Regions from separate parts of the Homo sapiens genome. Here region 2 is linked to region 1. Evidence: fine-mapped expression QTL. Tissue or cell type: testis. Region 1 holds a variant in brackets; the other region holds the start of a gene. All regions are shown on one strand. Distances are between the middles of the regions.

What was found. PIP is the estimated chance that this variant, and not a neighbour inherited with it, causes the effect.
Region 2: it holds the start of ZNF594-DT, and the variant in region 1 is fine-mapped to the expression of ZNF594-DT in testis (GTEx, PIP above 0.99). The same link has a PIP of 0.9 or more in whole blood.

What each region holds. Positions count from the first base shown.
Region 1 is chr17:5,231,410-5,239,626 of GRCh38, reverse strand. SCIMP (SLP adaptor and CSK interacting membrane protein) reads left to right here and starts at 4,767. Exons shown (of 5, transcript NM_207103.3): 1 at 4,767-4,892. The coding sequence starts at 4,872. It overlaps ZNF594-DT (ZNF594 divergent transcript), which reads right to left. Exons shown (of 6, transcript NR_152840.1): 6 at 3,624-4,513. RefSeq lists enhancers at 2,081-2,380, 4,326-4,525. The variant G/A (reference allele first, on the strand shown) is at 4,618.
Region 2 is chr17:5,189,152-5,196,110 of GRCh38, reverse strand. It overlaps ZNF594-DT (ZNF594 divergent transcript), which reads right to left and starts at 4,104. Exons shown (of 6, transcript NR_152840.1): 1 at 3,948-4,104. ZNF594 (zinc finger protein 594) reads left to right here and starts at 4,243. Exons shown (of 2, transcript NM_032530.2): 1 at 4,243-4,363. RefSeq lists a silencer at 4,109-4,308.

The DNA of each region.
Region 1 (8,217 bases):
ACAGCTCAATGGGAGGAGTGTCAAAAAAATGTATGAGCATATTTTAAAACCATTGCAAAGTATGTCATGGGGAGAGTGTCCAGAGGAGAGATGACTGAGTTGGGTTAAATTGCCAGGCCAGGCACAGTGGCTCATGTCTGTAATCCCAGCATTTCGGGAGGCCGAGGCGGTAAAATCTCTTGAGGCCAGGAGTTTGAGACCAGCTTGGGAAACATAGCGAGACCCCCATCTCTACAAAAAATTTAAAAATTAGCCAGGTGTGGTGGTGCATGCCTATGGTCCCAGCTACTTGGGAGGCTTAGGTGAGAGGATCGCTTGAGCCCAGGAGTTCGAGGCTGCGTTGGGCCACGACTGCACCACTGCACTCCAGCCTGAGTGACAGGGTGAGACCGTCTCAAAAATAAATGAATAAATAAATAAATTGCCAGGCCACAGAAAATGCTTAAGTATTACAACTGGTAAATCATAAGAGTTATGGTTGATGTGGCTCCCAGTCAGTTGAGTGGTAATGGGGCTGGTGGACTCATGTTTGGGAACGAAGAAGAGAGAAGGTTCAAGAGTGAGAACTGAAATCACTGCTGTCTCTCCATCCCTGTCCCAGGGGAAAATCCATTGCCCAGCCATTACCAGCTCCTTGAGACTGCCTGCATTTCTTGGCTCGAGACCCCTTCTTCGGATCTCCCCAGTCTCTTGCCTCTGCCAGCACATCCCCTGCCACTGACCCTGACTCTCCTGTATCCCTCTCAGAAGGATCTTGTGATTACATGGGGTCCATGTCGATAATCCTGCATGACTTCCCCACTTCAAAATCCTTAGTCATATCTGCAAAATCCCTTTCACCATCTAAAATAACATACTCATGGGTTCTGGGGTTTAGGGGCCCAATGCTCCTAGTACCTTTCATGGGAATCTTTACCTCCAGAAATGGGGAGAAGTGGGCAGGGACTCCCTTCATACACAAGACACGGCTGCCTCCTGCCACAACCCCAAATACTTATACACTTGCCTTTTTACATCTGAGCTGGAACGACCCCACCTCAATGTCATGGGGCCAGGGTGGGAGACAGAGGAGCTACAACATCTGCTTGGCTATTGTTAGGGACAAACAAAGCAGCCACGGTTGCTTAGTGATGACTTCTGGTTCCACCTGAGTGCTTTGGCCACCCATATTGCTCTCAGAGCTCTTTAAAGATGAGTTATTGTGCCCGGAGTGGTGGCTGATGCCTGTAATCCCAGGACTTTGGGAGGCTGAAGTGGACAGATCACCTGATGTTAGGAGTTCAAGACCAGCCACCTAACCAACATGGAGAAACCCCATCTCTACTAAAAGTACGAAATTAGCAGGGCATGGTGGCGCATGCCTGTAATCCCAGCTACTCTGGAGGCTGAGGCAGGAGAATTGCTTGAACCCAGGAGGTGGAGGTTGCAGTGAGCCAAGATCGCGCCATTGCACTCCAGTCTGGGCAATAAGGGCGAAACTCTGTCTCAAAAACAAAAACAAAAACAAACAAAAACCCCCACCTTTTTAAAAACTGCAATAAAATCTATTAATGTTCTAATTATATGTTGTATCTTATGATTTCTCTTTCTTCAGTTTTTTTCTCATGATGGGGATTAATTGACACTTGTGAGTGGCACAAAGAATAACACCTCATTTTACACATGACTTAGATGACTGAGTGAGAAGAAACAAAACGGCAGAAGCTGGGTGCCACCCGGATGTTGACAAAAAGGTTGAGTCATGAGATGAAGGGTGGACTGGAATCCCTTCTGAGTGTCCTCTAGCCTGATGGTCTCTGTAGCTTTAAGAGGTGAACATCTTGTGTGTCCAGCCATCCCTACGGGGAGGTCAGAGGGACCAGAATCCTGAGGAGAAAGCACCACAGGTGACCACTAGAGGGTGCCCTTCATTCTCCTTGACACCCTCTGGTCCAGCCGCTAATCTAGGGCCCTCAGGGACCTCTTTAGTTGCCCAGACCAGCAGGTGGCATTTCAGATGTGCAGAAAGAACACAACCGCCCCAACTTCCTGCCCTCCTCTTGTGGTGGAAAGACAAATGGTGGAGTCGGGGAAGAATGTAGATAGCAAGGAAGTGGGTAGATCCAGATGCCGTGGTGTGTGTCCCTAAACTTTGCTCTCAAGCCTCTGACTGCCCAACACATTCACTCTTGATCAGCCATGCAACCATCTCTTTCTCTCCAAATACTATGGCTGCTTTGTGTCTGTCCACATTCTGTCCATTTGGTGAGCTCCTACACATCCTTCAAGGCCCAGTTCAAATGCTACCACTCAGACCCTTTCTTCTCTCCCACTTTTGTGCTTCCACAGCACTAGCATTCATCACTTTGCATAGTAATAACTTATGTGCCTTCTGTCCTGTAGAACATGTGCCATGTGCTCTACCCATGAATGACTTGCCCAGTTCTGAGTCTCTACTTGTTGAGCACAGGGTCTGGCACAAATTGAAGGTCATTGTATTTAGCCTGCATCATATTATGGCTTCAACTTCCTCCTACACTTTGCGGGACTTTCTTGAAGGCAGATGGCAAAATCCCTGGAGCACTTTCATATTTGTCAATTGAATTCTTTCATTTTACAACAAGGAAACTGAGGCTCAGAGAAGGGAAGGATTCACAAAGAAAGTTTTGTCAAACCGGGCCTGGAATTCTGATCACCTGACACCTCAGGCTTGAACTTGCTGTGCAAAAGGCATTGTTAGAAATAGTAGGGCTACAGAGTTTACTATATCACAGCTGAACTGAGGTCCTTAAAGGTTAGCAAAATAATTTATTGAGTAATTTATTGAATGAATGAATGAAACACAAACCAAGAAGTCACAGCTTTGTTAGCCTAGGATGAGCTCTATCCACAGAAGCATTTATTCACCCCTCAGAAGAGAATTTTTTTTTTTTTTTTTTTTGAGACGGAGTGTTGCTCTGTCACCCCGGCTGGAGTGCAGTGGCTCGATCTCGGCTCACTGCAACCTCCGCCTCCCAGGTTCAAGCGATTCTTCTGCCTCAGCCTCCCAAGTAGCTGGGACTACAGGCACCTGCCACCATGCCTGGCTAATTTTTGTATTTTTAGTAGAGACGGGATTTCACCATGTTGGCCAGGCTGGTCTCAAACGCCTGACCTCATGATCCGCCTGCCTTGGCCTCCCAAAGTGCTGGGATTTCAGGCGTGAGCCACTGTGCCCGGCCTAGAAGAAAATTTTAAATTGGCTTTTAGGAAGGTTTTTTAGCAGCTAAACTTTGGATGAGCCTAAGAAGAAAGAGTTCAGGCCTTGGCCAGGTGCAGTGGCTCAACTCTGTAATCCCAGCACTTTGGGAGGCCGAGGCAGGTGGATCACTTGAGGTCAGGAGTTCGAGACCAGCCTGGCCAACATGGTGAAACCCTGTCTCTACTAAAAATACAAAGATTAGCCGGATGCGGTGGCACACACCTGTAGTCCCAGCTACTTGGGAGGCTGAGGCAGGAGAATTGCTTGAACCTGGGAGTCGGAGGTTGCAGTGTGCTGAGATTGAGCCACTGCACTCCAGCCTGGCGACAGAGTGAGACTGCATCTCAAAAAAAAAAAAAAAAAAGAAAGAAAGAAAGAAAAAGAAAAAAGAAATTAGTAAACACTGCAAATCAGGAATCTTCTGAGCCAGATGTTTTGTTTTGTTTGTTTGAGATAGAGTCTTGCTCTGTTGCCCAGGCTGGAGCGCAATGGTGTGATCTTGGCTCACTGCAACCTCCACCTCGCGGGTCCAAGCAATTCTCCCGCCTCAGCCTCCTGAGTAGCTGGGACTACCGGTTCACACCAAAATGCCCAGCTAATTTTTGTATTTTTAGTAGAGATGGGGTTTCACCATGTTGGCCAGGCTGGTCTCGAACTACTGACTTCAGGTGATCCACCCGCCTTGGCCTCCCAAAGTGCTGGGATTACAGGTGTGAGCCACCGCACCCAGCCAGAGCCCGGTGTTTGTTAAATTTACCAGACATATATCAGACATTATCAGATATTTATCAGACATATCTGGTTATCATTATTACTGAAATGGATAACAACTCATTCGCTCTGGGCAAATACAATGCACATCCGTTTGCCTATTTTTACTAATGTGACTGCTCATTTGAGTCAGAACCAGCCAATTCAACAAAATGGCTAATTGGTTTCCCCACTCCAACCCCCATGGTCAGAGGCCGTGGGCCTCGCTGGGAGTTCTGTCTCACAGTATTGCACGAGGGGACCCAACTCAGTCAAAATGCTCCACTGGCCACATTTCTCAAGGTCGCCACTCACACGCCTTTAGAAACAGGAAGCCTGTCCCTTGCCTCCTCCAAGCAGAAGATGTCTCAGCAGTTCCAAGGTGCACAGGAGCTTTCAAGAGTCACCTTCATGGTGAGATGGTGAGTTTGTCACACATGAGCTGGTTTCTTACCTGGATCTGTCTCTGCATGGGAGCTGGCGTCCTGTCGCTCTTCTTGAGACTGAGGTTGCCACATCCAGGAATGCTCACGGCAAACTCGTCTGTGGGGACACCAAACCCACCCCCACTGCCAAGTCTCCACCCTGGCCCCTGGCCCCTGCCAGGACCCCCTACCACACCATGAGGGTCCTCTGGTAGGCCTTGC[G/A]GGAGCGACACGGGGCAGTGAGAAGATTCTGGCTTCTGGACAGCCGTGGGTCATGAGCTTCCCTGGAAAAGGGATGGTTGCCTAGAGATGACGCCAGGGTCTCTGCCCCGTGGGCTGACTAGAAAGGGGAAGTGGTCAGGATGGGGCTCACTGTCTCTAGCAGTGGGTGAAGGCCTGTGAGTGAGGAATGCCTCTCACCAGCTGTGCCTGAGCTGCAGCACTCCAGCCACTGCTGTCTCCTTAGCTGCTCACATATGGATACTTTCACAGTTCAGGTAAGCATCTCAGCTTTCCAAGGGACAGTTTCCTGCTCTCTTCACAGCAGACATCTGCCAGCGCTGGCATCAGGGCGTGTCCCTGGGAGCCACCGATCAGCACTGGGCCAGGGGATTGCAGCCTGGGGCCCTGGTACGACTGCTGTGTAGGGTTGGAGAAAAACTTGCATTGAAGGATCTGCTCTACTGGTAACTGGCTGAGTGACCTGAGGCATCACTTCACCTCTCTGGGCCTTTTCCTCATGTGTATGTCAGGGGCGATGAAGAAGTCTACCTCTTGGATTGAAATGAGATAATGACCGGGAGTGAGAGGTCTCAACTGTAACGAGTTACTCTCACTTTCTGGATGCCGATGGTGTGTTTTGGGACTTGTTATGTGAGAAGACTGTCATGGTGCTATGCTGGAGGTGGGGGTGGGAGCGAGGCACTGACTGTGTCAATTTATTTATTTTTATTTTATTTTGAGATGGAGTTTCGCTCTTGTCGCCCAGGCTGGAGTGCAGTGACGTGATCTCGGCTCACTGCAACCACCGCCTCCCGGGTTCAAGCGATTCTCCTGCCTCAGCCTCCTGAGTAGCTGGGATTACAGGCACCCGCCACCACACCTGGCTAATTTCTGTATTTTTAGTAGAGACGGAGTTTCACCATGTTGGCCAGGCTGCTCTCGAACTCCTGACCTCAGGTGATCCGCCCGCCTCGGCCTCCCAAAGTGCTGGGATTACCGTAGCATGAATTTAGGCTACGTCTTGGGGCTCTTGGATGAAAGACCTGGATCACCTCCAGTCTTGGTACCTTTGTCATTGCATCTCTGGCTTTCAGTAGTTCATTAGGCACCTTCCCTTCCAGAGGCCTCGAGATCAAAGTGTGTTGGGCTGGCGTGAGTTCTCGGTGTAGCCATCTGCTTTTGCCCTCTGGAAAATTATTTTGAGAAGAGATCTGGGTTTGGCTTTGCCATATCCACTCCCACTGCCTGGTGTGTCCACTTGTCCCTGAGGTCTTGGCCATGAAGCAATGTGGAGCACAGGCTTCACTCTGCTTCAGTGGTAAATAACTACTGAGAGGCAGGCGGGGCATGGTGGCTCACGCCTCTAATCCCAGCACTTTGGGAGGCCAAGGTGGGCAGATCACAAGGTCAAGAGATCAAGACCAGCCTGGCCAACATGGTGAAACCCTGTCTCTACTACAAATACAAAAATTAGCTGGGCATGGTGGTGGGCGCCTATAGCCCCAGCTACTCGGGAAGCTGAGGCAGGAGAATCGTTTGAGCCCGGGAGGTGGAGGTTGCAGTGAGCCAAGATTATGTCACTGCACTCCAGCCTGGTGACAGAGCAAGACTCCATCTCAAAAACAAACAAACAAACTACTGAGAGGCTTAAAGCAAGGAAGGGACAGGGTCACACTGGTATTTGGCAGCCAGTGGGGAGCCCAGTGGGGGCTAGGGGCCAGCGAAAATGCAATGGTCCAGGTACAGAGATGAGGACTTGGACTACATTTGGAGGCTGATGGGCTGAAGCGGGGTGGGGATGGGGCCATGGGAGAAAGAGGAATGAGGCAAGGTTTCCGGTCTTTTCCAGAAGTGAAAGTATAGAGAAGGGAAGAAGAGAGGCTGGACTCCTTTTAATGACCCTGCCGTGCACTTCCCCATGCACACTTGGGTTTTAAGTTGCCAGTGACTATCCACATGGCCATTTCTGGTGCTGACATCAGTGAGAAGGACAAGTGGAGCGAGGCTCAGTGGCTCACGCCTGTAATCCCAGCACTTTGGGAGGCCGAGGCAGGTGGATCACTTGAGGTCAGGAGTTTGAGACCAGCCAGGCCAACATGGCAAAACCCCATCTCTACTAAAAATACACAAAAATTAGCCGGGTATGGTGGTGCGTGTCGGTAATCCCAGCTACTCAGGAGGCTGACACAGGAGAATAGCTTGAACCAGGAAGTAGAGGTTGCAGTGAGCTGAGATTGCACCAGTGGAGTCTAGCCTGGGTGACAGAGCAAGACGCCATCTCAAAAAAAAAAAAAGAAGAAGAACGAGTGGGAACAAGGCCTCACTTAGCATGAACAGCAACAGTCGGGGAATTAGAGGTGAACTGGGGCAAGAACTGCTCATGCCAACCGGCCTAAATGTTCTCTACAGCCTCTCAGACCCTCGAGATCTAGACTGAGATTAGTTCGAACCCTCATTCCAGGCCTGCCGAAGTCCAAAGCCCTCCCCAGGACTTCTGTGGACTCCCGAGGAGCCCACCTCTTTTTCCATGGTCAGCAATGGGCCTGCAGCCTCTGTGGGTAAAACTGTTTACACTGCGCTGTTTACACTGCACTGTTTGCACTGTTTATACTGTTTATACTGCACTGTTTATACTGCACTGTTTACACTGCACTGTTTATATTCCACCCCTTTCTTAGTCCCCCACACCCCTAGAACAAATCTGCTCACAAAAGAATTGGCAGATGCAGCAGACTTTACCAAAGACTCAGCGGGGGACCACCAGAGGGGCTTGTAACGCATCAGCGCAAACAACTGCACACAGAACATAACACGGCGCTGCTCTGAAAATGTCTTTGCCAGCCCATCCCTGAGCATTTTCTATCAGCTCCTCCTCTTGATACCAAATGAGGCCCATTCTGCTCATCGCACAGTAAGCCAATCACTGAGGTGACCAGTTTTTTTTTTTTGTTTTTGAGACGGAGTCTCGCTCTGTCGCCCAGGCTGGAGTGCAGTGGCGCAATCTCGGCTCACTGCAAGCTCCGCCTCCCGGGTTCACGCCATTCTCCTGCCTCAGCCTCCCGAGTAGCTGGGACTACAGGCGCCTGCCACCATGCCTGGCTAATTTTTTGTATTTTTTAAGTAGAGACAGGGTTTCATTGTGTTAGCCAGGATGGTCTTGATCTCCTGACCTCGTGATCCGCCCGCCTCAGCCTCCCAAAGTGCTGGGATTACAGGCGTGAGCCACCGCGTCCCGCCAAGATGACCAGTTTTGCAGCACAGAATGCATTTATTCATGAGGCAGCCAAGTGAGGAGATGGGAAAACAGGTCTCAAACCCACTTCCTCGAAGATGGGGTTTAGAGACGTTTATGGGACAAAGAAGCAGGTGGCCTAAGGTGTGGGGAAGGTGATTGGAGGGAAAAGTAGGACATCGGCAATCTGTGCAAGCCTAGTCAAGCTTCATCGTTCTTCATAGGATGCAGGTTCACAAAATGGTGGCATTAGCATGATGGAAGATGGAGTTTTTGGCGCTCTGACATCAAACGTCACCTACTGGACACTCACACAGACCAAGTTGAAGGATTGATGGTCATAAGTGGCTTGAACTGGATAAGAGCTG
Region 2 (6,959 bases), 43 kb after region 1:
TTTCCCTGAGTTCTGTGAGCTGTCCTGGCAAACCCTAGGAGGGATTTGTGGGAACCTCACTTTAGAGCCAGTTTGTCAGAAATACAGGTCACAGCCAAGAGTTTACAATTGGCATCTGAAGTGGGCAGTAGTCTTGTGGGACTGCGGGATCTAACACTATCTCCAGGTAGATAGTGTCAGATTGAATTGAATTAGAGGACAGCTATCTGGTGTCTGCTAGAGAATTGCTCAGTATGTGGAGAAAGCCCCCACCCATCTGGTGTCAGAAGTATTGTGTTGAGTGACCGCATAAGACAGTAAAGAGGGCCAGGCTCAGTGGCTCATGCCTGTAATCCCAGCACTTTGGGAGGTTGAGGCAGGCAGACCGTGAGGTCAAGAGATCGAGACCATCCTGGCCAACATGGTGAAACCCCGTCTCTACTAAAAATACAAAAATTAGCCAGGTGTGGTGGTGCGCGCCTGTAGTCCCAGCTACTCAGGAGGCTGAGGCAGGAGAATCGCTTGAACCCAGGAGGCAGAGGTTGCAGTGAGCTGAGATCACACCACTGCACTCCAGCCTGGTGACAGAGCAAGACTCTGTCTCAAATAAAATAAAATAAAATAAAATAAAATAAGCTCCAAGACCGGGCACGGTGGCTCACGCCTGAAATCCCAGCAGTTTGGGTTTGGGAGGCTGAGATGGGAGGATTGCTTGAGCCCAGGAGTTCAAGACTAGCCTGGGCAACATAGTGAGACTCAGTTTCTCCAAAAGTACAAACATTTTCTGGGTGTTGTGGTGTGCACCTGTGGTCTCAGCTACTTGGGATGCTGAGGTGGGAGGATTGTTTCAGCCTGGGAGTTTGAAGCTGCACTGACCTGTGATTGCACCGCCATACTCCAGCGTGGGCCACAGAGTGGAGCCTCCCATCTCAGTTAAAAAGAAAAGAAAAGAAAAGAAATCTGGTAGGCCAGGAGTGGTGGCAGGTTTGGCTCATGCTTGTAATCCCAGCACTCTGGGAGTCTAAGGTGACAGGATTGCTTGAAGCCAGGAGTTCCAGAACAGCCTGGTCGATCTAGGCAGACCCCATATCTACAAAAAACTAAAAACAAAATTAGCCAGGCATGGTGGCAGTACCTGTAGTCCCAGCCACTCAGAAGGCTGGAGGATCACTTGAGCCCAGGAGGATGAGGCTGCAGTGAGCTATGATCATGCCACTGACAGAGTGAGACCTTGTCTCTTAAAAAAAAAAAAAAAAAAAATCTGTCAGGGTTAGTTGTCGTCAGAACCATTTTACATGTGTACGAATGTTTTCTTGTAATTCTTATACTACTTTTAAAATAACAAAATAAAGTTTAAAAAAATTTATTTTAAGAACTGAGATCTGCATAAGCCAGAAAAATGAAAATGGGAGGCAGTGGGTGTGGGGAAGACAGCAGCTGCATTTTTTTATTGAGAAATATATAAGTCTTGCCAAAAGTGGTTATTTTGGCTTTTTAGTCTTAAAAAGAATAGCTCTTCTTTTTGATCTCCTTTAGAGTTCACATGCTACCCCTGACAGCAGCATGGATTCATTATGTAATTTATTCATTCTACAAATATGTATGGAGTGCTGGCTCTGTGCCGGGCACTGGTGATACAGTGAATGTTGAGGAAAACCCAAGGCACTCTCAGGGAACCTGAAGTCATGTGGAGCTCTTTTATGTCATGCATGTTATCCCTTTTCCTATCATGCATGTTACAAATATTTTCCCTTTTAATACTTTCACGATCTACACCACTTCTTTTTTCTTTTTTCTTTTCTTTTTTTTTGAGAAGAGTCTCGCTCTGTCACCCAGGGTGGAGTGCAGTGGCGCGATCTTGGCTCACTGCAACCTCCGCTTCTCCAATTCAAGCGATTCTCCTGCCTCAGACTCCCAGGTGGCTGAGACTACAAGCACGCACCACGACATCCAGATAATTTTATTTTTTTTTTGAGACGGAGTCTTGCTCTATCGCCCAGGCTGGAGTGCAGTGGCAAAATCTTGGCTTACTTAAGCTCTGCCTCCTGGGTTCACGCCACTCTCCCGCCTCAGCCTCCCTAGTAGCTGGGACTACAGGCTCATGCTGCCATGCGCGGCTAATTTTTTTTTATTTTTTTTATTTTTTAGTACAGACGGAGTTTCACCATGTTGGCCAGGCTGGTCTTGAACTCCTAACCTCAAGTGATCCACTCGCCTCAGCCTCCCAAAGTGCTAGGATTACAGGCATGAACCACCTCGCCCAGCCTGTACGATTTTTTTTAAACCCATTTATTTTATTTTATTTATTTGTTATACTTTAAGTTATAGGGTACATGTGCACAACGTGCAGGTTTGTTACATAGGTATACATGTGCCATGTTGGTTTGCTGCACCCATCAACTCGTCATTTACATTAGGTATTTCTCCTAATGCTATCCCTCCCCCAGCCCCCCACCCCCCACCAGCCCTGGTATGTGATGTTCCCCACCCTCTATCCATGTGTTCTCATTGTTCAACTCCCACTTATGAGTTCTAACTCATTTTTGCCTCCCAGAGGATCCCGGTGTCTTAGCTGTGGATCTCTCAATACTTGCAGGTCACAGGGCCACAGAGGCTGGGCCTCTAGGAGCAGAGGACACGGAACAGTCTATTTTTTTTTTTATTTTTTTGAGACAGTGTCTTGCTCTGTTGCCCAGGCTGGAGTGAAGTGGTTCCATCTCGGCTCACTGCAACCTCCACCTCCCGGGTTCAAGCTATTTTCCTGCCTCAGCCTCCCGAGTAGCTGGAACTACAGGCGCCTGCCATCATGCCAGTTAATTGTTTTGCATTTTTAGTAGAGACGGGGGTTTCACCATGCTGGCCAGGCTGGTCTTGAACTCCTGAGCTCAAGTGATGCGGCCTCCTAGGCCTCCCAAAGTGCTGGGATTACAGGTGTGAGCCACCGTGCCCTGCCTTAAAAACCCATTTCTAAATTCCAAAGAGTAACTTCTATTAGTGCACTCTTATTAAGAGAGGTAAAGCAAAAGGAACTATAAAAGCAACTATAATTGAAGTCTATTTGAGACATGGCTCAGTATTTCAATGAAAATGTAACACAGTCAATGAAATACTATCTCAAATGTAGTTGTGCAAATTAAGGAATAGTTGGTAGTAGCTGCATTTACAAATTCAAGAGTGAAACGTGCATAATTCGTGCAACCCAAAGTTTGGGACAGAGAGATATGAGAAGCCAAAGTGACTAGTGCACTGACAGTTTTGCTTCGGAAAGGCTTGGGGTTGGACATCTTACATCTTTACATACATATATAACCCTTACCACGATCCTACGCTACGCGAACCAACATCATCTCCATAGTAATAACTAATATGTATCTGGCCTTCGCCACATGCAAACTTCACATACATATGTCAGTGAGGTCGGTCCTATTATTTACCTCACTTTACAAATGAAGCAACGGAGGCGCGAAGAAGCTATTAATAGGTAACTTGTTCAAAGTCACATAGCCCCTAAGTGGTGGGGCAAGGATTCTGAGTGTCTGACTTTCTCACTTCGGAACTTACACTTTTAAACATTAAGCTGTCCTTGTTGGGATCTGTATCGCCTAGCCTTTGACCGGGCATTGCAAATAGAAGTCATCAATGAATGAGACCACAAATGCATGCAGGGAACAATAACAAAAGATGAAAACAGAACAGGCAGAACAGGAGTTCGAGACTAGCCTGGCCAACATGGCGAAACCCCGTCTCTACTAAAAATACAAAAATTAGCAGGGCGTGGTGGTGGGCGCCTGTAATCCCAACTACTGGGGAGGCCGAGGCAGGAGAATCGCTTGAACCTGGGAGATGGAGGCTGCAGTGAGCCGAGATCGCGCCATTGCACTCCGGCCTGGGCGAAAGAGCGAGACTCCATCTCAAAAACAAAACAAAAGGGCAGAACAAAAACGTAGTTACTTGAAGGGGTCACTCACCCCGGACCCGACCGTGCCACAGCCCCGACGCCACGCATGTCTAGGACCAGCTGAGGACGCGGCCTCTCGGCGGTAACCTTGGTAACCAGCCAGCGCGCCGCTGGCCCTCCGGAAGTCAGACTCCGCCGGGCTGAGCCGAGCTACGCCAGCGCCGACTGGCGTCGTGGAGGAGTCTGCGCAGAGGAGACACCTGATCCGGTGGGAGACGGCCAGGGGAGCGCGCGCGGATTGGCTGGAGCCGACGGGGGACGGCTGGGCGGGGCGCGGACTGGGGGACCGCAGTCCCGGGGAGCGCACCGGAAGTTCTCGCCTGGCCCAGGCGCGGGGTCCAAGATGGTGGCGCTAGGAGCCGCGACCCAGTGATAGCGGCCGTGGAGGGGCCCCCGACCGAGCGGGAGGTTGGGGGTAGCCTGGAGGTGAGACCCCGCTGCGTTCACAGAGCTGGCGGCCGCGGCGCCTGCGTCCACCGGCAAGCGAGGAGTGGAGCAGAGCTCATATGCCTATGGGGAGAGGCCTGGGGGACCGCAGGAGGATGTAGGCGCCGGGTGCGCATGACTGGGCCTTCTTGCTCTCGGTCGGCTTCTTGGTCTCGGCGTGCCCCATTCCCGGCCCTGTCCCGCTACTCTTGCCTGTTCCAGTTCCCTCCTGTGGGTACCGCTAACGGCATCTTCCCGAGGCCCAGAATCCACCGTCAGGCATAAATTGATTATTCCTCGCCCACATCTGTGCCAGGTATATTTGTATATGTAACCAAATCTGGTTTTTGCATCCCACGAGTGACCCCGCTGGGGAGGCTAGACTAAGCCACAGGAATGAACTGTATTGTTCATATATGTTCTACTACTCAGTCTAAAATATTAGGACTGTTAGAGTTCAAACAAGGGAGGGATTTAGGTGGGCTGGTCTCTTTGTAAGGGTCTACATTGCTTTTAGGAGCAGCTTCTATTGTGACCAAGCGAGTTACAGAGAAACGCCACACTTTGAGACAAATTAAAGAGTCCTTATTAGCCGGCAACCGAGAGGCAGCTAGCGCCCAAAATTTTCTCGGCCCTGAGGAAGGGGCTAGTTTTGTTTTTATACCGTGGTCTAAATAGGGGAGGGGGGATTTTAGCTGAAGCAATTTTTACAGAAGCAGAACTGGCAAAAAGTTGAAAAATTAATTGGTTACAAATGCAGTTACAAAATATAAACAGTTCCAATTGCACGGGCTTAAACTATCACAAAGAGATAAATGCAGGGGTTTTGCTTGCCATCCACCGAGCGCGTCCCCAGGAGCTGCTGGTGCAGCTTGCCTCAATATCTTATCAGTAGGTGCATTCCTGGACGTGCTTTGAGTCAGTTTACACTAGCTATGCCTTAAGGGAGGGAGGTGAAAGGGGGCTGCCAGTGGAGAAACTAAAATGGAGTCTGTCCGGCTCTCTCTCTGCTAGGAGAGAGTCACTCAGGTTAAAACAAAGTAGGGTATCACACTTCAAAAGTCATTTCTTTTGGGAAGCCTTCCCGGATTGCCACCGCAGCGCTTTTAGCATCTAATTCATAGGCTCTTACTACCTTGTTTCATGTGTGAGTCTTCCTCTAGGCATAGATTCTTTGTTTAGCTTCACCTAATGCGTGCCCATGAATGTGAATTAAAAAGGATTGACATAGTTAAAAGATACTAAGAACTGGGCATGAAATAGTGGCATTTCTTAAGTTAAAAAATAGTGGCCCCTAGGCCAGCTTTGAGTGTAGACACATTTTCTTGGCTCATGCTGTTTGTTTTTATTTGAATTAATGGCCAACTTCCTTTTTTTTCTTAAGACAGAGTCTCGCTCTGTCAACAGACTAGAGTGCAGTGGTGCGATCTCGGCTCACTGCAACCTCCGCCTCCCAGGTTCAAGCGATTCTCCTGCCTCAGCCTTCCGAGTAGCTGGGACTACAGGCATGTGCCACCACGCCCAGCTAATTTTGTATTTTTAGTAGACACAGGATTTCTCTCCATGTTGGTCAGGCTGGTCTCGAACTCCCAACCTCTGGTACTCTGCCTGCCTCAGCCTCCCAAAGTGCTGGAATTACAGGTGTGAGCCACTGCGCCCGGCCTGTGTTTGCTCTTTTCTTTAGGAACACTAATTATATGTATTTGATTATCTTTCTTTAGTTACTGGTTTTCTCTGTAATCACATTTGTATTCATTTCATTTTTTATTATTTCTCCAGGCCTCATTGTGACCTTGTAGTGATTATTTTTGTTGTTCCTTATGTGAATTTCATCTACATAATGCTTTTTATTTGCCCTTCCATTTCTTTCCTCAGCATTGTCAAATCACTTCTCACTACTTTTTATTGTTTTCTAATCTAATTTGTTTTTGGCCAGGCATGGTGGCTCATGTCTGTAATCTCAGCACTTTGGGAGGCTGAAGAATCCCTTGAGGCCAGGAGTTTGAGACCTGCCTGGGCAACATAGCAAGACCTTTTCTCTACAAAAAAATTATTTAAACTAGCTGGGTATGGTGGTGTGCCTATGGTGTCAGGCTGAAGTGGGAGGATTGCTTGAGCCCAGGAGTTTGAGGTTGCAGTGAGCTATGATTGCACCACTGCACTCCAGCCTGGGTGACAGAATGAGAGCATGTATGAAAAAAACAAAACAAGCTGGGCACAGTGGCTCACGCCTGTAATGCTAGCACTTTGGGAGGCTGAGGCAGGAAGATCCCTTGAGGCCAGGAGTTCCAGAACACCCTGGACAACACGGCAAGCCCCATCTCTACAAAAACTTAGCCATGTGTGCTGCAGCATGCCTGTAATCCCAGCTACTTGGGAGGCTGAGGTGGGAGAATCATCTCAGCCTGGGAGGTCAAGGCTGCAGTGAACCATGATTACACCACTGCACTCCAGCCTGGGTGACAGAGACCCTGTCTCCAAAAAAAAAAGTGAAAAAAAAATGGCCTGGCACAGTGGCTCACACCTATAACCCCAGCACTTTGGGAGGCCAAGGTGGGAGGATCACTTGAAGCCAGGAGTTCAAGACCAGCCTGGG